Homo sapiens: one gene and its partners. The protein of the gene in region 1 interacts with the protein of each later gene in a biochemical or structural test. Each region holds a gene or a part of one and is shown on either strand. Other genes may lie near its edges.

Region 1 (7,755 bases):
AGTAAGTCTTATGAGATCTGATGGCTCCATAAGGGAAGCCACTTTCCCTTGGCTCTCATTCTCTCTCTTGCCTGCTGCCATGTAAGACGTGCCTTTCGCCTTCCACCGTGATTGTGAGGCCTCCCCAGCCACGTGGAAGTGTGAGTCCGTTAAACTTCTTTTTGCCTATAAATTACCCCGTCTTGGGTATATCTTTATCGGCAGCGTGAAAATGGGCTAATCCACAAGCACTCCCTGCTGATTGGCCAGAAGAGGTCACCTGACCCATGGGTCAGCCAATGACTTCCACCAGGGCCTGGGGACCCAGGGTCGGGGTGGGAAAGAATTTTCTCTTTGGGAGTCCAGCTAAAAGATCCTGAGAGATCAAGGCTGAGGAGAGAAGATTCTAGAAAGGTCGGGTGATAAGGAGGTCAGGTGGCCACAATGGGCCTTGAGGAAGTGAGACCTCAGGTGAGGAGAGAGTGGGGCAGTGTTTCAGTTGGCTCAGGCTGCTATAAAAAAATGCCTCACCCTGGGTAATTTATAAGCAACAGGAATTTATTGCTTACAGTTTCGGGGTCTGGGAAGGCCAAGATCAAGGTGCCAGCAGAGTCAGTGTCTGATGAGGGGTTGGTCTCGGCTTTAAGGATGGCACTTTGTTACTGCATCCTCACATGGCGGACAGGCAAGCGGGACTAACAGGCTCCCTCAAGCCCTTTCATGGCAGCGCTAATCCCACAATCCCACTCGCCCTCCTGACTCCATCCCCTCCAAAAGGCCCCATCTCTTCATACCACTGCACTGGGGATTATGGTTGGTTTATTTTTTATTTATGTATTTATTTTTTTGAGACGGAGTCTCGCTCTGTCGCCCAGCCTGGAGTGCAGTGGCGCGATCTCGGCTCACTGGAAGCTCCACCTCCCGGGTTCACACCATTCTCCTCCCTCAGCCTCCGGAGTAGCTGGGACTCCAGGTGCCCGCCACAACGCCCGGCTAATTTTTTGTATTTTTTTTTTTAGTAGAGACGGGGTTTCACCATGTTAGCCAGGACGGTCTGGATTTCCTGACCTATTGATCCGCCCGCCTCGGCCTCCCAAAGTGCTGGGATTACAGGCGTGAGCCACTGCACCCAGTTGGGATTATGTTTTGATATGAATTTTGTTGGGACTCAAACATTCAAACCACAGCAGGTAGCCATGATGGAAGGTAACTCCAGGCAGATGCCCCGAGCCCAGGAAAGAGTGGAGAGAGTCCCCTGGGCCTGGGGGACCGAGCCCCACTCCCATCTACCCACCTCCTCTTGGCACACCAAAGGTTCCCCAAGGCAACTCCCTGTCATCTACTCCTGGCCATCAAAAGACCTGGCCTGAACCCATCCCCATGCCAGGTCCATTCCCCCAAAACTGATTCATGCAGGTTATGTCTGGAAGCAAGCAGGTCAAACAAGACGCTAAGGAATGCAGAGAGCAGCAGGCTAGTCTCCCTAGCATGCGCCCACCCCCAGCCTGTGTCCAAGCCCCACGTGAGGCTGTGCACTAAATCCCACCTCCCCACCAGCTCCCCTCGTGTGAGGCTTCATCCACATAGTGGCTGCCTTCTGCAGCTTTGTGACTCCTGTTTCCAAGAGTCATAGTTTCCAGCTTGGGGGTGAGCTTCGAGTGGCTGGGAGTGATGGGCTGACCAATGTCTCGAGGAAAGTGACTTCTGGATTGTGTGTCTGCGGGACGACGACCTAGGGAAGAGAAGATGGGGGATCAGCTTCATGGGCACGTGGCCTGGGCATTTCCACAGGGACCCGCTCTTGGAAGGATTTCGAGCTCAGCTTGAGCCTTTGTTGTTACTGTCTTTAGATTTGTACAAAGTCTTGAACAGGGAGCCCCACCTTTTCACTTTGCACTGGGCCCCCAGATCATGTAGCCAGTCCTGTCCTAGTTTCACAGCAGTGAGATGGAGGAGCAGAAATAACACCAGAAAGCCCCCATCCCAGGGCTCTCCCAGTCCTCCCAGGGACCCCAAAAGACGGCTCTACATGCTCTGGCACTGACAGTCTCTGATTAGCAATTTCCTCAAACAAAACAAAACAAAACAAAACAAAACAAAACAAAAACCATTCCAGGCCTTACACATCTCAGGATAAGGTCCCGCCCGCCACTCAAGGAGGAAGTGACAGGCAGACCTCATTTTATCTCACTTTACCTTATTGTACTTTGGTTTATTACACTTCATAGATATTGCACTCATTTTTCACAAGTTGAAGGTTTGTGGCACCCTGTGTGAAGCGAGTCTATCAGTGCCAATTTTTCCAGCAGCATATGCTCACTTCCTGTCTCTGCGTCACATTTTGGTAATCCTCACAATATTTCACACTTTTTCATTTTGATTATATGTGTTATGGTGATCTGTGACCAGTGATCTTTGATGTTGCTATTATAATTGCTTTGCTTTGGGGTGCCACAAATATCACCTGTAGAAGATGACGAAGTTAATTAATAAATCTGTGTGCTCTAACCTGTCACTGATCAGCCATCTCCTCCTCTCTCTCCCTCTCCTCAGGCCTCCCTATTCCTTGAAGACACAACAATATTGAAATTAGGAAAATTCATAACCCTACAATGGGCCGGGCGCCGTGGGTCACACCTAGAATCCCAACACTTTGGGAGGCTGAGGTGGGCAGATCACCTGAGGTTGGGAGTTCAAGACCAGCCTGACCTACATGGAGAAACCCCATCTCTACTAAAAATACAAAGTTAGCCAGGCGTGGTGGTGCAGGTCTGTAATCACAGCGACCCAGGAGGCTGAAGCAAAAGAATCCCTTGAACCTGGGAGGTGGAGGTTGCAGTGAGCCAAGATTGTGCCATTGCACTCCAGCCTAGACAACGAGAGCAAAACTCCATCTCAAAAATAAATAAATAAATAAATAAATAACCCCAAACGGCCTCTATGTGCTAAAGTGAAAGGAAGAGTTGCACGTCTCTCACTTTAAATCAAAAGTGAGAAATGATTAAGCTTGGTGAGGGAGGCATGTCCAAAGCTAAGACAAGTTGAAAGCTAGGTCAAAAGTTAGCCAAATTGTGAAGGCAAAGGAAAGGGTCTTGAAGGATATTAAAAGTCTTACTTCAGCAAACACATGAGTGATGAGAAAGTGAACCAGCCTTGTGGCTAGTGTGGAGAAAGTTTTAGTGGTCTGGATAGAGGATCGAGCCAGCTACAACAATCTCTTAAACCTAAGCCTCGTCTAGGGCAAGGCCCTTGCTCTATTCAATTCTAAAGGCTGAGAGAGGTGAGGAAGCTGCAGAAGAATAGTTGGAAGTGAGCAGAGGTTGGTTCATGAGGTTTAAGGAAAGAAACCGTCCCCATAACATGCAAGTGTGAGGTGAAGCAGCAAGTGCTGATGGAGAAGCTGCAGCAGGTTACCCGGAAGCTCTAGCTAAGATCATTGATGAGCGTGACTACACAACAGAGCAGGTTCTTAATGTAGATGAAACAGCCTTCTATTGAAAAAAGATGTCATCTAGAACTTTCATAACTCGAAAGGAGATGTCAATGCCTGGCTTCAAAGCTTCAAAGGGGACAGGCTCTCTTGTTGGAGATTAATGTAGCTGGTGACTTTCAGCTGAAGCCTCTCCTCAATTACCATTTTGGAAATTCTAGGGCCCTTAAGAATGATGCTAAATCGACTCTGCCTATGTTCTATGAATGAAGCAACAAAGCTAGATGAGAGCACCTGTATATAGCTTGGTTTACTGAATATTTTAAGCCTAGCATTGAGACTTACTGCTTAGAAAACAAAATATTCCTTTGAACATTTCACTGCTCATCGTCCATACCACAGGATCTGAGTGTTCCGCATCCTGGATTGAGGGCCAAAAAAAAATTTTTTTTTTACTACTCGTTGACAATGCACCTGTTCATCCACGGGCTCTGATGGAGATGTAAAAAAGAATTAACATTGTTTTCATGCCTGCTAGCACAGCATCCATTCTGCAGCCCATGGATTAAGGAGTAACTTCAACATTCACTTCTTATTCTTCAATAAATATATTTTATGAGGGCATAAGTGCAACACAGAGTGATTCCTCAGATGGATCTGGGCAAAGTAAGTTGAAAATCTTCTGGAAAAGATCACCAATCTACATGCCGTTAAGAACATTTGTGATTCATGGGAGGAGGTCAAACTATCAACATTCACAGGAGTCTGGAAGAAGTTGATTCCAAATTTCATGAATGACTTTGAGGGGTTCAAGACTTCAGTGAAGGCAGCAACTGCAAATGTGGTGGAAATAGCAGGAAAACACAAATTAGAAGTGGAATATGAAGATGGGACTGAATTGCTGCAATCTCATGAGAAAGCTTGAACAGATGAGTTGCTTCTTATGGATGAGCAAAGAAAGTGGTTTCTTGAGATGGCATCTATTCCTGGTGAAGATACTGCGAACATTCTTGAAATGACAACAAAGGATTTAGACTGCTATATAAACCTAGTTGGTAAAGCAGCAGCAGGGTTGGGGAGTCTTGGTTCCAATTTTGAAAGAAGTTCTAGTATGAGTAAAATGCCATCAAACAGCATTGCATGCTACAGAGAAAGCTTTCATGAAAGGAAGAGTTCATTGCTGCAGCGAACTTCATTGTTGCCTTATTTTAAGAAATTGCCACAGCTGCCTCCACCTTCAGCAACCACCACCCTGATCAGTCAGCAGCCATCAACATCAAGGCAAGACCTCCACCAGCATAGAGATGATGACTGGCAGAAGACAGGTGATGGTTAGCATTTTTAGCAATAAAGTATTTTAAAATTAAGGTATGTACATTGTTTTTTAGATATAACGTGATTCAGTGCACACCTAATAGACTAGAGCATCGTGTGAATATAACTTGTATATGCACTGGGAAATCAAAAATTTGCATGACTTGCTTTATTGGGGTGTTCTGGAACTCACCCATAATATCTCTGAGCTATGCCTATTGATGTCTCTTGGGGACAAAGAGAGGTGGGTGGGTCAGGGCAAGGGGCAAAGATGTCATCAGCTCTTCTGCTAGAACCTTAGGGAAGAATGTCAGGATGTTGCAGGGCAAATCTGGGAGTGTGACCATTTTTTTTTTTTGAGACAGAGTCTTGCTCTGTCGCCCAGGCTGGAGTGCAGTGGCATGATCTTGGCTCACTGCAAGCTCCGCCTCCCAGGTTTACGCCATTCTCCTGCCTCAGCCTCCTGAGTAGCTGGGACTACATGTGCCCGCCACCATGCCTGGCTAATTTTTTGTATTTTTTAGTAGAGAGAGGGTTTCACCGTGTTAGCCAGGATGGTCTCGATCTCCTGACCTCGTGATCCACCTGCCTCGGCCTCCCAAAGTGCTGGGATTACAGGCATGAGCCACTACACCCAGAAGTGTGGCTATTTTTAAAAAACACAGTGCTGTGTTCTTTCCGGAAAGAGAAGTCTTCAATGGTCTGGCTTGAGACCCACAGGGCTCTGCAGACAGCCTGTGCTGTGGGGTCCTAAGCCGGATCCCCATCTGGTGGCACATGCCCTCCCAAGGGTCCCCAGTGGCCTTGGAGGTCTCAGAGACTCCCTTTGCTGCTGGAAGGAAGTCCATGCTCCCAGATGCTCATGGCCTGAGTCCTGAGGAATGCGCTCCTGGTCCCCGTTCTGCAGGTGTCACATGTGCATGGGGCTCCCAGGGGTCCTGGAGGGAGAGTTTGAAGACACGTGGGGCCAGGGTCTCCTCAGTTGCTGGGACAGCAAGGACACGGCCCTTGGGGTGAGGAGACCCTCTGGACTTCCAGGACATGCATCCCCTGGGCCTTCAGGCACTGGAGGGTGGATGCCGGCCAGTCCTCCAGATTCCGTGAATCCATGTTTTCTACCCATTGGTGGGACTGGGTGTGATTCCTTATTCCAGATCCCAAAAGGGTAGGAGCGGAAATCCGCCTTCTAATTCTTTTTTCACATGGGAGGCAAAAATCTCATCCAGCCCCTCTCCTGCTCAAAGCCCCCCATGGCTTCCAATTGCCTTAGCATCGACTGCAGCCTGGAGCCAGGCCCTGGCTCTGCTCTCCATGCTCAGGTCACCCTCAAACCCCTGTGGGTTCCCACACTGTCATGTCCTCACCTCCAGGCCATTGTCCACACTGTTCCACCCACCAGGTACACCTGCCCTGGCCCTCCCCACCTTGCGTGGACCTGCCCAACTCTCCAGCTGCCCCCACCCGAGGCCCCGAGCTCCCTTCTGCAGAGTTGGAATCCTCAGGCTCTGCAACCAGCCTGTGCAGCTTCCAGGGACCAAACGGTGGCTGGGACGGTGAACCGCACTGGTTTCCCCTCTCCCCTCTTCCTGTTGGCAGTGGAGCCCCCTCCCCTGAGTCTCTGCTGGGCTTAGACTGCCTTGACACAGGCGGCACTTCCCAGACCCCCCGTGGCTAAGTGCAGGCCCTCAGAACAGCACAGATGCAGTGGGTGGGCTTGGTCAAAGACAACAGCGGCTCTCTGTACCCTCTCTCGCCCCTCTGCTTGCTGGTGCTAAGTTCAACCCCACAGATGAGGACGGAGCCCAAGGGACGACTCAGCACTGAGGTAAAAGAAACCCTGGTCTGCTACCCTCACCCGGACATGAGACTTGGGCTTCAAGCAGGCGGGGCCACCGTGTGTGGCATCTCCACTGCAGCAGGTCAGCCTGTGCCCTGATGCAGAACCTTATTTGCATGGCAACCCAGCACCTCTCTCGGGCCCAAAACAATCACCACAACAATGATGAGACAATAACACTCCTATCTCCTGAATGCTGGCAGGGCTGGTGTAGGGCTGAGCTTCGCCTTCAGATTTTACCCCAGTCTTGCAACCACTGTAGGAGTTGCTTCAGGCTATTCTTGCCATCCCACTTTACAGCTAAGGAGACAGAGGCTCCTGGGTGAAATGACTTGGGTGGGTCCCTCCACTAGGGGGACGGAGCCTCCACGCTGACTCTAGAGCTGCTGCTCCTCGCTGTGGGTGGGCACAGCCTCCAGACTCCGGGAAACCAGAGATTAGCGAATGATCGATGAGAGTGAATGAATGAATGAGTGGAAGGTGGGGAGAGAGAGAGAACACACAGGGGTCCACTCTGCCCCCTAGCTCACCTGCGTCCTCCCCTGGCTCCCCCTCTCCAGACCCTGCGACTCCTCCTGGGCCAGCCACCCCTGGGCTGATAGACATTTTGTTGCTGTTGCCGATGGTGGCGTCCTCGAGAAAGCACGATTTCATGTGGATTCTCTGGGCGGCTTCCCCCTCAGGGTGAGTTCCTGGACTGGGAATTCTTGCTTCAAACGAAGCTTCTGGGCCGGCAGCAGTGGCAGAGACTGTGGGTCAAAGGGAGAGAGGCCTGGAGCCAGGAGCAGCTGGACAGTGGCCGGGAACCCTGACCCCCAGCCTGGTTCACCCTCCTCCCCAGATCTCCCACCAGTGGCCCACACCATCCCAGGAGCACAGCCTGTGCCTGCCCGCCACACCTCCACCCGCCACACCTCCGCTCGTGCTGTTGTGCTGTCTGGGAAGCGTCTTTCTGCTCCACTGATCCCGCAGTGGGTCTGCCCCACTGATCCCGCCCGGCTGATCTGGACGTCAGTGTCTTCCTCTGGGATTCAGCTCCTCTCTCCTCTGCTGCCTGCTTCCCACTGCACTGGAACACTGGCCCCCACTTTTGGTTGAAATCTTATGGGGGCTCCCAGCCTGGCCCCAGCTCCTGCCATCTGGCTCTGCCCTTTCCCACCCAAACTTCTGAAGAATCATCCACACTGAGTCCCGC
Region 2 (7,755 bases), on another chromosome or scaffold:
TTTTGATAATTTATTGTGGTAATTTCTAGTGCAATGAGAGCAAGTCCTTGCTTTACATGATGTAGTTCTAAAATTTCCTACAGAGATTGTAATGTCAAGATTTTGGTAACATCTTGAATGATCCTTAAGTTCTACAAGAAAAGTAAGCAGTAATAATTAAAAGTTAAAATACAGCTATTTTTAATTCTCTAAAATCACTTATTGTAATTAGAACCTATAGTTATGACCTTATTTATTCATTTTAAAAAATCAAGATCAAGGAAAATCCAAATTCATTGTGACAGTTAAGATTTGTCAATATTTACAAATTTAACTCCAAAAGTTAAATGTTTACCCATTGCTAGAAAAGATGACCAAAATTCTATATAAAGAGATCTTATCCTGACTGAACAAAATGTAGGATATGCTTTTTTATTTTACTGGTTATGTTTCACTCTAAAGGGTAGGGTTTAAATTATAGGAATATTTTCGTGGACTTTAATATAATAATCCAAAATAATATGGATTAAAAGATAATGTTGCTTTTAAAAGCAGTAAAATGCACTTAGCAGCTGCTTTCCACCCCACTTTATTCCAGTTCACCTTATAATATCAAATTAAATTCCAATTAAAAGTTCCATATTTAATTTTTTATTCAAGCCAAAGAAAGTGAGGCTTATAACAATAAACAAGTAAGACCCATTTATCCCCCTCAAACCTGATTCGTGGCCAGTCTTATGTTTCTGCCCTCTCCCTCCTGGTGGTATCATTCAGAATAGAAAATTATCGTATGTTGGGTAATACACTTTCTTCCTCCTGAGCTGTGCCCAAGCATTAACACTCTCTAGTATTTCTGCCTACCTTAGAAGAGGAAATAGTTGTTTTCAAGGACAATTTCTATGACACATACAGTGTTTCTGTATAGGTTATAGACCAATATATTTTATTGACTGCATTCTGGAAAACATTAGAATTATATATTAATAGAATTATTTATTGTTCAGAATCCAGAATCAACGGACATTTTATATGCATTTTGCCTTTCTAACCTGTGATTGTGAAGTTGGATTTGCTTAGTACAAAATTTAGCCACACAGGAAGAAATCTGTATTTCTTTTCTAGGAAGGAGAGGACAAGAAGCCAGAATCAATGGTAAAAGCTATGTCTTAAAAAAAGGCACAGTGCATTAAAAGAATCCCAGCATTTACTTTTAGTTCATAATAATTTTGTCTTTTTCCCCTTTGGAAATCCCTTAGAAATCCAGTTTGCCAAAGAATAACTTTAGAGAGACCTAGAGAGTAGGAGCTATTCCAGTACATGTCAACACAGTGATTTTTCCTTCCTTCAGGGAAAAAAAAAAAAAAAAAAAAAAAAAAAAGCAAACTATCTCTTGGGTACCTTCTGTAGGGAGGCTGGTGGGAAACTGAGAAGTCACTGCTCTTCTGGTGGTAGTTAGGACCCTGAACTGGGTGGTTGTCGCTCCTACGGTTGTGGTGGTTCGAGAAGAAGTTTCCACTGGTTCTGTATTCTCACACATCTTCTCTTTTGACTAGTAAGAGAAAAGAAAAGGAAAACAAATGGAGTGATCACAAATCTATTTTTAGAACTTACATCAAAGAAGCTGGGCTGTAAAGCACAAAAGCCTCTCATATCAAGACAAGGAATAAATTACTTTTGTACAAGACTATATTAATGATTTTGCTAATTTATGAAGTTTATAAAATAGGAAAGAGAAAAAGATGGATGGAACAAGGCATTTCCCTTTTTAGATATTTAGGTTTCATCATTTACTGCTGTTAAGCTTTCATATTACTGTTTACCTTGCCCTAAATTTTACATTGGTATATTTATAAAAGACACACTGTCAAAAGGGAAAATTTATACTAGAAGAAAAACAGGTGCATAAAGATAAGGTTTAAAACATACTCAGGTTTGTGGAGAAAAAGTGCATTCCTTTCGTATCAAACTGACAATGCTAAATCCGAAATATTTGCTAACTTCCCCATACTACTTCATTGTTTCAAAAATCATCTGTCACAAGTTGAATGAATGTCTAAAATTTTGTTTTCCTTTATGAAATATTCAAAACCACATAAGCAAAGGATTGAACAGAACTCTTGTAATCACTCAGCCTATTTTCCTCCTTAGCAGAGCTATATTGAAAACATCAGGAAATGAGACATAGTGAATTTTTTATTTTTAATTTGTGAAAACAAATCCTACAACCTTCACTGGTAACAACCTCCAACATCCAAACTTTTATAGCTTAGAAGTTGGTGTTTCTATCCACCTTTTGTGCCGCAGTGGACTCCCTCTCTCAGGTGGGCCTTGAGTAGAAAATAACTATTCTGGACATGAGTGGTTCTCATCCCACATTTTAAAATTATTGTTAAATAAATATCATTCTTAAACTTCTCTCATCATTAGTGGAGCGCTAGGTGCCTTTCCCCTTGTTAATGCAGACTTCCTGAGACAGCCTCCTTTTCATTAATAGGATATGAAACAGGTTTATTCTCCACTTCAAGTCTAAACATACTAGGGTCTCATTTAATTCCCCAAATTCCAGTTCCTGCACCTCTGAGCCCCATTAATCTAATTATTTCCTTTCAGATACCACTTTAGTTGTCATCCCCACACCCTGGACTATATCTGTAGTGGAAAATGTTTTAGATCTGAAATCATAAGCTCAGTTATCCTTTTTCCATCTATCCCTGTACCTGCGAACTCCAATTCTTCTTATTCTTTGACTACTTAGAAAGCCTAAGAAAATGATTTTGTTTTTAAGTTTCTTTTTCCCCCATTACTTCAACCACTCATTTCAGTAGCTTCAAGCATCTTGCTCTATTTTTTTATTTTTTTTTTTTTTTAGTTTTTTTTTCTACAACACCTTTAAAGAAAAGATCTGCCTTTTCCCTGCCTGCTCCAAAGCCAGGCACAGCTGGAGAATAATCACACAGACCCGCCATGGGGGCTCCACAAACATCTCCTGCATCCTTAGCAGGGCCGTGCATACCACTTGGCAGCATTGCTGTGTCTTGCTAATCACCTCTCCCATTATGCTCAGTATGAATTTCAAGCTCTCTCCACTTTACCTAAAACTGCAATCCCATCATGATTCTCCCGGTTTTACTCCTTGGGTTCACCTTCCATTTCCTTGATAAATAGGCATGATCAGCAAGATTTCTTTAAATTTCTTAGTGAATCAGCATACTTACTTGACTCTGGGCTGACCTATTCTTTCCTTCTGTGATAATGGATGGGGACCTTTCCTTATAGCCATCCTTTCAACCTATTTCTACCTATGTCCTAGCTCAACTCAGCCCACCTTCACAGGTATTGTGAATTTGCTTAGGTGATCATAGTCCTTTCTCTACAATATTTGCCACCCCTAATTCTCTGCTGGCTTCTTATCAACAACACTTAAAGGTACACAAGCATGCCTAATCTTATTTTGCAAACCCAAATTCCAGTTTGCAAAGGGAGGCAGTCCCAGAAGAGGGACTGCCTCCCTCTTCTCCCCAATGCATCCTGACATTATACTGCTTTCCCTCCATTCATACGCAGTCATATTTCCAGAGAGATCAGTCTGCCTTGGTCTTCTCAGACTCCCAGCTTTCCCTTTTATGACAATCTTGCTCTTACCTAATCCAACTGAGTTGAAATTTCTCGTACCAATGTTTCTAAATATCTCCTTAGCTAAATATCCAACATCTTCCATGGTGTCCTACTGACACCTCATCAGCCTATGGTGCAGATGTCCACTCCCCTGTCTTGGTTTCTGTGACACACCCTCTCCTCAATGTTCTGACACCTCCCTCACAACTCCATCTCAATTTCCTTTTATTTATGTCAATTCCTTAAGTGTTGGGGTGGTTCTTATGGATCATTCTTGCTCTGTCACTTCATTCTATGCATTATCTTTTGCAATCTCTTCTACACCCATGACTGCAATGAACATCTTTATGTTGATTATTCATAAATCTATATTTCCAGTCCACATTCCTCTTTTGGATTTCAGGCCCAAAAAGTCATCTATTGACCAGGTGTCTGCATGTGAATGTCACACACATCTCAAACTCAAGGAGTATAGAATGGAACTTGCCATATATTATTCTCTCTTTGTGTTTCTACTGTCAATGAACAGGACCTAGTATTCCGTAAACAGGATCTAATAATGTTCAGTAAACACCCTACGTTTAAGGTAAAATCCTAGGCTCAGATTGCTTTTGGCAGTAACGGCAGACTAAGGAACTAAATAGCCCTCCTATAACAAAACAAGTAGATTCTGAATAAAACTTGAATTTTAAAGCCTTAGGATTTGCAGGAGGTAAAGAATATCCCAATGGTGCCTTTCCATTGTTTATTCCCCTCCCCACTCAAAAAATAAAACAAAGCAAAAGCTATGTGCTATAAAGACAGTAGGAGCTGTATACATTAAGGGAAGTTAAAAAAGCAGAATTTGCCCTGAGGAAAAAAATCCAAAATCAATATCGCTCTAAAGAGAACAAGCCTTGCAGCAGTAGTAGACAGGGGAGAAAAATCTGAACTTCTCCTCCTCACATTAGGGCAGAGACTTATGGTAGCCTGAAAATCCTGAGGATCCCATCATCAAATCTTCTTTGGGGGAAAACATCACCTATTTAGGTCTTAGAATAGGATCAGACAAATATACACTAAAAAAGAAAAAAAAATAGCTGTCTGAGAAAGAATCAGCAAAAACAATGACCACACTATTTAGATCACCAAAATTTTAGATAATGGGATCATCCAATATGGAATATACAAAAATCATACACGGAATATTTAAAATCATAAAAGATAAAATTGAGAAATGAACGGTTCACATGAAACTATAAAATACTTGGCAGATGTAATAAGTGTCAAATTTAATTTTAGATATGAAAAATGTTTGTTGGAATTTCTACTTCAGTGAGTAGATTACATAGAATATTAAACAAGATGAAGGGAGAGTTAATAAACCGGTAAATACATCTGAAGAAATTGCTCCAAATACAGCACAGAGTAATAAGGAAAGAGATTACATATAATAGAGGTTTAAAAATATGAGGAAAAGATGAAAATGGCAAGCTTTCAAAGAAGTCAGAAGGTGAAAATAAAGAGAGTGGAGAAGTATAGCTGAAGAGTACATTTATCAAGCTTGACACCCAACCAACAGGAAAACACACATTTTTCTTGAACACACATAGACCCTTTGTACAAAATGCCCATGTACTTGTTCATGAAAAATTTCCAATCAACTTTAAAGATCATAACATGTTCTCTGATGATGACTCAATTAGTCTAGAAGTCAATAGTAAAAAAGGTAAATTTTAAAAGCCTCTGTAATTAGGAAATGTGATCTAATTCATAATTTAATGTATTTCCAATAAAATGTTAGTAAGATGTATTGATAGATGGATTACAGATCTCGACAAGGTGAGTTTAATATTTATATGAAGGACAAAAGCCCTAAAATACCCAAACACTTGTGAAGAAGAAAAAGTAAGGAGATTTGTCCTGTATATAGTAAGATTTCTTATAAAACAATAGAAATTAATACAGTGGGACACTGATCTAAGTACTGACAGAGCTTTAGAAGAGGAGAGCCCAGAAAATATACATAAAACAGGTGACTTTGCAAGATATTGCCAAAAGAAAGGATTAGTTAACAAATGGTGCTTGAAATTTGGCTATCCATCAAGAAAAAAAACCCCACGAAACTGAATCTCTACCTTATATAATACATAAAAACCAATTCCAAATGGAATAGATTTTGACGTGTAAGACAAAGCTTTAAAATATTCAGAAAAAAATACACAAAAATAACACCTAGATGGAATTTGGTAGGAAAATTCTTCTAAAAGAAGATGCACAGGCATATAAAACTCATCATAAAAATAAAAGATTCATACATTTGACAGATTAAATTGATAATTAATGTTAGTGAAATAAAATCATAGAGAAAATGAAAAGATAAACCAAATTTGGGAGAAAAAATATACATCTGAATTACATTCTCAATCTTTACATATATGGAGATATTCATTTTCAACATTTTATATTGAGGTAACTGATTATATGAAAGAAATGATTGTCTCAAAACACAACTATGGCTTTGTCAATAGATACTCTTTGGAACTACGTTATTAGATAAGTGAGGTGAGACGGATGAGCACACACTGCTGTCATTCCCTAAATGAAATGCCAAAAGGTTGGTTATAGCTACACTGGCAATACTGCATTTAAAGTTCAAGAATGTTTTTAAAAATGTATTGCTCAAGATCTTTATGAAACATGCCCCCCAAAAATGAATTTTTAAAAAGTCTCTAAGTAACCATTGAACAAATAGTTTTTAAAACAGCATTTTGGCATGGCTTGCTTTGCTAAACTTTTGTAATTGTTAGCAGTTTTAATTCAAAATTGATACCCCAAAACTTAATGAAGGGAGAAGAAGTAAATGCTTTTCTTCATAAACTTTATAGGATATCTTTATATGATCTTGAAATGATAGTATAAATGCGAGTCACTGCAAAGCTTTTAAACGGGTTAAAATTGTTTCTGGTATCCAATTGCTTACACGACTTCACTGCATCCTTGTCTCTATCATGTTTCCCTCAGAGTTAACATTATACCATCTCTCTATGCCAACTAATGTTATACAATTTCTCATTTATTACAGCACATCAATTTGCTGCAGTCTTCCACCCTCCACAATACCACTGGTCTTGCTGTTTGAATTACAAAGAGGAACAATGGTTTCGTACATCCTAGAAAAATAGCAAGCATTTAAGAGAACTCCTCTACAGATTCCAATCCTGGCCCTACTATTCCCTAGCCATTTACCTGACTCTCCAAGAACCCACACTTCACCCCTCCCCACAAGCTCCCCTCACTCCTCCCCTTTCTCTCCTTGGTAATATGGGGGTAGTGACAGTGCAGGCACTGTTCTTCATAGAATGAATATGACAATGAAATGAGATAATACATATAAATAGTTAAGCCCCATGTCTGCATCTATTAGGGGTTGTAGCAAGTTGCTACAATGTAATGAAAATGTTATCTAATTTAACAAAAATAGCCAGCTGTTATCGAACCCCTAATATTTGCAGACATTGGGCTTATAGAAGGATTCTTCTCCTTTCATTAAGTTTTAGGGCATAAATTTTGAATAAAAATTATTAACAGTTAAAACACATGTATATGACAGCTTGGTCCCAGGATTCTGTCACAATAAAGCATGTGTACCTCTTCAGGGCATCCACTGTCCACCCAGTCCTGCCGATGACGATCAAATCCACTGGAACATCTTCAAAGAAGACCACAATGCAGTTCAGAAAAGGAAGGATAGGGTGCAGGGTGGTGGACAGAAATTAAAAGTAAAAGATTAGTAGGTAGTTCATTCTCACATTTTCAGTTTAGCATAACATTAACTCTTCTATAGAACTCGCAACTGGAGAAGCAGGGAAATATTTAGAGGGTTGCTAAATAATCACTCATTCCTTAGGATGTCACTGTTAGGATCGCACATGGCAACCAAATCACTGTTAAAGCAAACTGCACTGTACGGAATACCTAGATCCCTGCACAAAGATAAGACCAATCGCTCTTCTATGAAGTGGATTTTCTTTTACCTTGTATTTTTTTTCTCATCATTAAAACAAATAAATACACACTTTTTTTGCAAATATTGTATTTCATGATTTCAGGTTCATTCATTCATTCATTTTACTCATTCATTCAAGACCCACCATCACACAAACTCTTTCCCTTTTGTGC
Region 3 (7,755 bases), on another chromosome or scaffold:
CAGCGGGTACTGCAGCCCGAGGCAGAGAGACGAGGAATTCAGGGGCACAGGGCCATCCTGAACCCTCCCTGCCCACACCATGGCAGGGGAAGCCCCAAAAGATATCCAACATGGCCCAGAGCAGGGACAAGGGAGTGGCTGAGAGAAGACCTGGACGTCTGGTGTCCTGGTTAAGGACAGAGACAAGGGCCCGGTGGAAAGAGGTGGGGCCTCCCTATGCCCAGCTGCTCAGGGACTACTCCCGAATCTGGGTCTCTCCTGGCCTCCCTTCCCTCCCCGGTTCCTTGGGGGGTCTCCCTCCACAGCAAGCCAGTCACTGCGGTGGGGAGGCTGGGAGAGGCCCAGGAGGAGGGGACGTGGGTCTGCTCCTCCCAGGCCCCACCTGCTCATGAAGGTAGTAGTTAAACAGGATCAGGTAGAAGTATCGCTCCAGGCTCCACAGCGCCCTCTGCCAGACGCTGTGTCGGCTGCCGCTTCCCTGAGAGAGAGGACAGGGTGTTAAGGACAGACTCCTCAGGCAGTCTTGTCCCTGTCCCCATCCCTGCAAGGGCAGGAGTTAAGCCTTGGAACTCCCCAGAAGACAGTCTTTCCCTCCCTTCATGACACAGTTCTGCCAGGCTGTAAGTTCTTCTAAGTGTCTCACCCTATCCCAGATGCTGTGGTTATCTGCGGTCAGGGGAGATATGTGGGTGACCACACCAGGCACTGTGGTTCTAGGTGCAGGGCTGGTCTCCCCAAGCAGGCTCCCAGCGCCAAGACAGGCAGGGGCTCCCTCACTTAGCTCCAGCGACACCCAACAGGTCAGGGTTGTGCACCCTCTGTGTTGAGGAAGCCAAGTGTGTGAACACCCCCGAGCCAGAGGCCCTCCCTTAAGAACTGGAACCTGGCTGGGTGCGGTGGCTCACGCCTGTGGTCCCAGCACGTTGGGAGGCTGAGACAGCCAGATCGCTTCAGCTCAGGAGTGCAAAACAAGCTGGGCAACATGGCAAAACCCCATCTCTATAAAAAAATACAAAAATTAGGCATGGTGGCACATGCCTGTAGTCCCAGCCACTCGTGAGGCTGAGGTGGGAGAATCGCTTGAGCCTGGGAAGTTGAGGCTCCAGTGAGCTATGATCTCACCGTTGCACTCCAGCCCAGATGACAAAGTGAGACCCTGTCTCAAAAAAAAAAAAAGAACTGGAGCCTCTCCACAAGAAAATACAAATACAAAGACCCTCACAGCAGTGCTCCAGGGGAGCCATCCTAATTACTCCTAATTTACAGAGGGAAACGGAGATTCAGAGAAATGAGGTAACTTCCTTAAAGTCACACAGCTGACAGCAAACAGAGCCAGATTCCCCAAGTCTCCTGACCCCAGCCCAGCTTCCTCTGCATGGGGGGTTGTCCGAGAGAACCCCAAGGGCCCTCGGATCTCCAGGTTCTCCTGCTGGGTCAGTACCTTTTGGAGGGCAAGTGAGATTCAAGTGAGATTCACAGAGGCCCTAAAGAAGGGCCACGCCCTTTGGTGAAATTTAATCCCATCTTTGGGAATCTCCACCAGGTGTCGGCAAACTTTTTCCATAAAGGGCCAGACGGTAAATACTCTAGACTTTCAGGCTTCAGGGTCCCTGCTGCAGCTACTGAACTCTGCCATCCCAGCATAAGAGCAGTCGTGGGCCAGCAGAGTAGAGAACAGCAAGACTGTGTTCCAGTAACACATTTACAAAGACAGGCGGCAGGCTGGATTTGGTCTAAGCCGTAGTTTGCTGATGCCCAATCTAGACTAAGGGGAGAAAGAATCCTAAATACACAACAGCCTTCATTTTCATGAAGCTGCTCAACAAAGAAGTATTTACACTGATGGGGAACTGGAGCAACTCAATTGTCCAAGAAGAGGGGGACTGTTTAGTAAATCACAGCAGGGGTGACATTCCAGGGACTCTGTGGCAGGCTCTAAGTACTGTATGGGATTTTTTTTGGTTTGGGTTCGTTTTGTTTTGTTTTTTGAGACAGGGTCTTGCTCTGTTGCTCAGCCTAGAGTGCAGTGGTACGATCATAGCCCACTGCAGCCTGGAACTCCTGGGCTCACAAGATCCTCCTGCCTCAGCCTCCCTGATAGCTGGTACTACTGGGCACACACCAGCTCCCTGGTAGTTGGTACTACGCGTGCCACCACACCCAGCTAATTTCTGTGTTTTCTGTGGAGACAGGATTTCACCATGTTAGCCAGTCGGGTCTCAAACTCCTGATTTCAAGTGATCCATCTGCCTCAGCCTCCCAAAGTGCTGGGATTACAGGTGTGAGCCACCGTGCCCAGCCTTTTAAAAATATTTTTAGAAAGAAAAAGACCCAGTGTTTTGGGAGGCCAAGGCAGGAGGACTGCTTGAGGCCAGGAGTTGAAGACCAGCCTGGGCAACATAGCAACACCCCATCTCTAAAAAAGTAAGGTGTGGTGACATGCACCTGTAGTCCCAGATACTCAGGAGGTTGAGGTGGACGAATCCCTTGAGTCTAGGAGTTCGAGGTTGCAGTGAGCTATGACTGCACCACTGCGCTCCAGCCTGGGCAACAGAGCAAGACCCTATTGAAGGAGAAGCAGGAGGAGGAAGAGAAGAAGAAAAAGGAGAAGAAAGGAGAAGGAGGAGGAGAAGGAAGGGAGGAGGGAGGAGGAAGACGAGAAGAAGGAGGAGAAGGAGGAAGAGGAAGGAGAAGGAAGGAGGAAGAAGGAGGAGGAAGGAAGAGAAGGAGGAGGAAGGAGGAGGAGGAAAGAAGAGGAGGAAGGAGGAAGAGGCGGAGAAAGAGGAAGAGAGGGAGAAGGAAGGGGAGAGGAGGAAAAGTGGGGAAGAGGAAGAGGGGGAAGGAGGAAGCGGGGGGAGGAGGAAGGGGGAAGGAGGAAGAGGGTGAGGAAAAAGAGGGGGGAGGAGAAGGAGGAGGAGGAAGAGAAGAAGAAACAAGAAAAAAGAAGAAGCTGCCTCTGTGGCTTTAGATTCTTTCCATGCGCTGTATGATATAAACACTATCAAGCCCACCTCCTTTCGCTAAGGCATGGGGACAGGGTCTGCTGAGACAGCCTAGAGCCCATAAGTCTTTCAGAAGCAGCCAGCTGGACCAAACCCCAGTCTTCCCAAAGAAACACCAGGAGTTTTACTAGTGGGAGGCCATGAGTGGCCTGGGGAGTATCTGAGTCCAGGGGCCCCTGCAGCCCTGGCCAGCAGCCCCTTCCTCTGTCCTGTTTATTCTGCAGCTGAAGGGACCTGGTCAGGAAAAGTAAACTTCCCCTCTTCCTTGTCCTTCCTGTGGGCCCAGAGCCCCTATCTCCCCTTCCTCTGAAAACTGCTCTTCTCATGGGAGACGCAGCAGCCAGAAAAAGTCAGTCTGAAAGAAACCAGTCAACATGCCTAATGAAATCAGGCTGCAGGGCTCACAGAGAAGCAGAGTGCTCACACGTCCTTCCATGCCTCACCTGGGCTGGGCTCTCCGGTCGGATACCTTCTAACTTCTTCTGGTTTTCCAAGACCACTTCTTTCAGGTCATGCAACTCGGCACAGGCAGTGATGGCTCTGTCCACCTGGTGCCAGAGACCAAGGCAAGTAAGAGGGAGGTGGGGGGGTGGGGAGCAGGGTCAAGGCAGAACGGCAGGAGAAAAGAGAAAAGAGAGGGAAAGAAAAAGATTGGCAGAGAGGTAGGGGAGGGTATCGGGAAGGAAGAGAGCCCCGACCAGTGAGAGGAGTGACCGTCCCCTCCACCACCCCTGCCCCAGCCCTTTGCTGTCCCTCACTCACCTCTTCCACCATCCTCCTTCCCTGGGGCACCATGCGGAGAAAGCTCTGGATCACCTGGAACTGCTCCATAGGCAGGGGCTTGGCCTGCGTGGGGGCAGCCCTGTCGAGGCAGGGTCAGTACATTAGCAGGCTCTTCCAAAGGTCTCACACGGCCACCCGCCTGCTGTCTCCACTCATATGGCCGCTGGGGGACACCAGACTACAGGTTCCTTCTGAATCACATTGTGGGAAGCAGGGGACATTTCCCCAACTAGGGAAACTGAGGCCCAGAAAGGTCAGGTGACTTTCTCCAGGTCTCCCAGCAAGTCTCGTGGCAAACCAGGAAATGAACCCCAGATGCCAAATTTCCAGCTCTGGCTCTGGGCTCCTAGACATGTCCCCACACTGTGGGGCAGCCTGTCCCCTCCTCGGCCCCACAGCCCTTCAGGACGCTGGGCCCCGGGCCACTCACTCTGGCTGGGAGGTGGTCCCACTGCGGTGAAGCAGGATGAGGGTGCCCAGGACCATGCCCAGGTTGGTCCTGCCCACGCCCATCTGGCAGCTGAAGACGAGGGCTGGGGGAGGCCCGTGGGCATCACGGAGCTGCAGCAGGCTGGGGGTCTCCTGGGAAAGACCATGAGGATCAGGCCCCAGTGAGACCAGGAAACCCTGGGCTGAGGCCTGAGCAGGGAGAAAAGCATGACATCAGCCCACCCTGCCCCACAGTCTGCAGCAAAGTGGGCTCCAATAGGTGTCTTGGCCTCTTCTGCCAAAGCCACAGCCTGATCAGCTCCACCTGCTCCCTCCCCAGGCCTTGGAGGAGCTCAAAGAACTGGAAGTGAGAGCGACTCAGAGGGCACCAGGCCAGTATTAACACCTTCTGCAAGATGCCAGTGAAATAAGATAATGCCCTGAAGGGGGCTGGAGAGAAACTCCGCCAGGACTCAGGAAATGTCAGCTGAACAGTCTATAGGGCAAGAGTCGTTAGCTCCACTAAAGAAAGGAGGAACTGAGGTCTAGAGAGGTGAGGTGATTAGTCCGGGACCACACAGCAAGTTGGCAGCCCAGCCACGGCCAGCAGCTGGGCCAGCGGTCAGTGATGGACTCTGCCATAAGAGAATGCACAAACACACACCTACATACAGGTACACACACACAAACACATACACACACAGACACATACACACACAGAAACACATGTATCCCCACACAGAGACACACAGACAGGAACACACAGACACACAGAGAGACACATAAACATGTACACACACTCCCCACAGACACACACAAAGGCGCTGACACACACAGACATATACAGAGACAGACACCAACACACGTCCACCCTAACATGCTCACATACACAACACAGAATGAAGCCTTCCTCTGAGGAAGGCGAGAGGCTGTGCCCACCCTGAGCACCTCCATGGGGACGACTCTCAAGACTCCTCCCCCATGCGCGCCCGTGCCCCAGTTACCCGGAGAACACTGACAAAGGCGTCCAACTGGGCCTCCAGGGGACTCCCTTGCTCGGGCAGGGGCAGGCGGTGGTACCTGCCAGGTGAGGGAGAGCAGCCATCAGGCAGGCACCCACTCTGGGAATCCCCCTCACCCCCTATTCCCGGGCACTGTTTGGAAATGGGCCCCACTGTGGGAGACATGGGTGTGGGGGACTCCGCCCAACCTGCAGATGGTGAAACTGAGGCTGCAGCTGGAGAGCAGGACCTGGAGCACCCATGGCCAGGGCTGGGGGTGGCCCTGTGGTACCTGTAGGTGGGCTGCAGGAAGAGGGGCCGCTTGTACACCTCCTCCGTCACATGCAAGTCGTCCTCACCATGGATGGCCACAGCATGGGGCTCCCCCCACAGGTCCTCGGTGTTATGGTACACATGGTATGTGTTCTCGCTCAGCTGGGCAAAGTCGTGGATCTAGAGGGAGGTGTGGGGGTCAGAGGGCCATGGCCTGAACTTCAAGACCCTCCCTGAGTGTCCTGGCTGAGCTCTGGAGTGACCAGACCATGCAGAGGCCACAGGCAGGCTTCTGCCCCCCATGAGGGAACTACACAGCCAGAAGTGCTCTCTATGCCATTCCTGGGAGTTCTGAAGGAATCGGGGTGCCTACACAGGGGCAAGGCAGGAGGGCTCTGCCCAGTGGGTGCAGGAATTCACAAAGCCACCAGTGCCAGGACGGGGGAGGTGTGGTCAGCTGGGAGCTGGAGCCGAGGGGAGCAGAGCACACAGGAGGCCTGGAGGGGATGGGAGAGGCAAAGAGCTGGGCGCCGGCATGGCCTCGGTTCCTGACCTGGAAGTTTCTGGGGACACTGGGACCCCACACTCTATTCACACACCTTCATGGTATGTCAGCTGCCTCAGAGGCCTCCACAAGCCTCTGTGTTATGGAGGAGGAGGAGGACAGAGGATACTGAAACAGGCCCACAGACCCACTGAGGGAACTGACTCAGAGGCTCGTGGCTCTCAAAGCGTTGAACTGCAGCCTTGGTCCTTCTGGTCTAGCGCTCTTTTCACTCACCTAGAACCCTTTCTTTTTCTTTTTCTTTTTTTTTTTTTAGAAAGAGTTTCACTCTGTAGCCCAGGCTGGAGTGCAGTAGTGTGATCTCGGCTCACTGCAACCTCCGCCTCCCAGGTTCAAGCAATTCTCCTGCCTCAGCCTCCCGAGTAGCTAGGATTATAGGCATGCGCAAGCACGTCCAGCTAATTTTTTGTATTTTTAGTAGAGACACAGTTTCACCACGTTGGTCAGGCTGGTCTTGAACTCCTGCCCACCTCGGCCTCCCAAAGTGCTGGAATTACAGGTATAAGCCACTGCACCCGGCCCACCAGACCCCTTTCTAAATAAGGACATTGAGCATCAAGGAGACAAGCAGGGTGGGAAAGGGGCAGAGGCAAAGAGAGCTAGAATAGGAAGTCCTTCCTCTGGCTGCCCGTGAGTCAGCCTTGCAGCCAGCCACTCACCCAAGCAGGGCACAACAGTGGGGGAACACGGGCCAGTAAGAGCAGGTGAGCTGGCCCCAAAAAGAGCATCTGCAAAGCTGGGCTGTGGGCTGGGGTCTCCCGCACACCGCACTGGTCCTCACCTCTTTCCGGATGGCCAGCTCCAGGCTCTCCACCCGGACCCCGGGTCCAAGGCCCTGGAGGTTCTCATGAAGGTTCTGCTTGTCTCGAGGTGTGTAGGACACAAAGTCCTCATCTGCACGCAGGAAAAGCACAGGTTCCTCCCGCACACAGAAGATGACACACTCCTGCCAGGAGCCCGAGGGGGAAGGAAGCCATCATCATGATCCCGCACAGACACCTGCACCACTGCCCCACCTCAGGGCCTCTGCCCAAGCTGTTCCTTCCTCCTGCACCCCACACCATCCCTGCAACCTGAATCCTACCCAAGAAACAAAGCTCAGTCCAAATGCTACCTCCCTGTGACCCTCCCAGTCAGCAGTGACCCCTGCCTCCTGTCAGGGTCAAGAGTCCTTCATATGAATCTCTTGGCGTTAATTCCTGCTTTGTACTATCAATGAATGCATCTTTTCCCCCTTAATGGACCACAGGTTCCTCGTAGGCAAAATCATGTCCTGGTCATTTTCATGTACCCATAATTCCTAGCATGGTGTCCTAGCATGGTGTCCTGGATAAATCAGGTGTTTGATGAACATCAGCTGAAGAAATGAATGCCCCATGACCACGCAATCATTCATTCACTGAGCACCATACAGGCAGAGGGAAATGTGTGGGCAGATGGTCCCCTTGAGGAACTTATCATCAAGATGGGAAGATGGGACCTGCACACAGCCCACACCCCCACCCCATTCTGTCTCACTCAAAGCCTTTCCACCTTAACTCCGGGGTCAATTCAGATGCAGCTGCACTCAAGAAGCCTACAATCGCAGCAGACCCTCAGCCTGTGTCCTAGGGACACGCAAAACCCTGCCTCAACATCCGACAGGTAAGAACAGTCCTTGAAAGCAGGCACTTGGGAATTCAGCTGCCTGGGTTTGGGTCTT

Evidence for each region. Proteins that work in one complex are often made in the same cells at the same time.
Region 2: the proteins of ZBP1 (region 1) and PLXDC2 form a complex in vitro, tested with the Homo sapiens proteins (one study listed by BioGRID).
Region 3: the proteins of ZBP1 (region 1) and PALD1 form a complex in vitro, tested with the Homo sapiens proteins (one study listed by BioGRID).

Annotation. Positions count from the first base shown.
Region 1 is NC_000020.11:57,603,059-57,610,813, forward strand, and holds the end of ZBP1 (Z-DNA-binding protein 1), read right to left. Parts: intron 7,638-7,755; coding exon of another isoform or gene 7,475-7,637; intron 7,310-7,474; coding exon 7,091-7,309; intron 5,662-7,090; exon of another isoform or gene 3,755-5,661; intron 2,444-3,754; exon of another isoform or gene 2,355-2,443; intron 1,712-2,354; coding exon 1,515-1,711; 3' UTR 794-1,514; downstream 1-793.
Region 2 is NC_000010.11:20,211,199-20,218,953, reverse strand, and holds part of PLXDC2 (plexin domain-containing protein 2 isoform 1 precursor), read right to left. Parts: intron 7,286-7,755; coding exon 7,225-7,285; intron 1,529-7,224; coding exon 1,378-1,528; intron 1-1,377. UniProt on the Homo sapiens protein: May play a role in tumor angiogenesis.
Region 3 is NC_000010.11:70,530,534-70,538,288, reverse strand, and holds part of PALD1 (paladin), read right to left. Parts: intron 7,000-7,755; coding exon 6,835-6,999; intron 5,669-6,834; coding exon 5,508-5,668; intron 5,295-5,507; coding exon 5,219-5,294; intron 4,368-5,218; coding exon 4,216-4,367; intron 3,865-4,215; coding exon 3,765-3,864; intron 3,551-3,764; coding exon 3,446-3,550; intron 479-3,445; coding exon 383-478; intron 10-382; coding exon 1-9.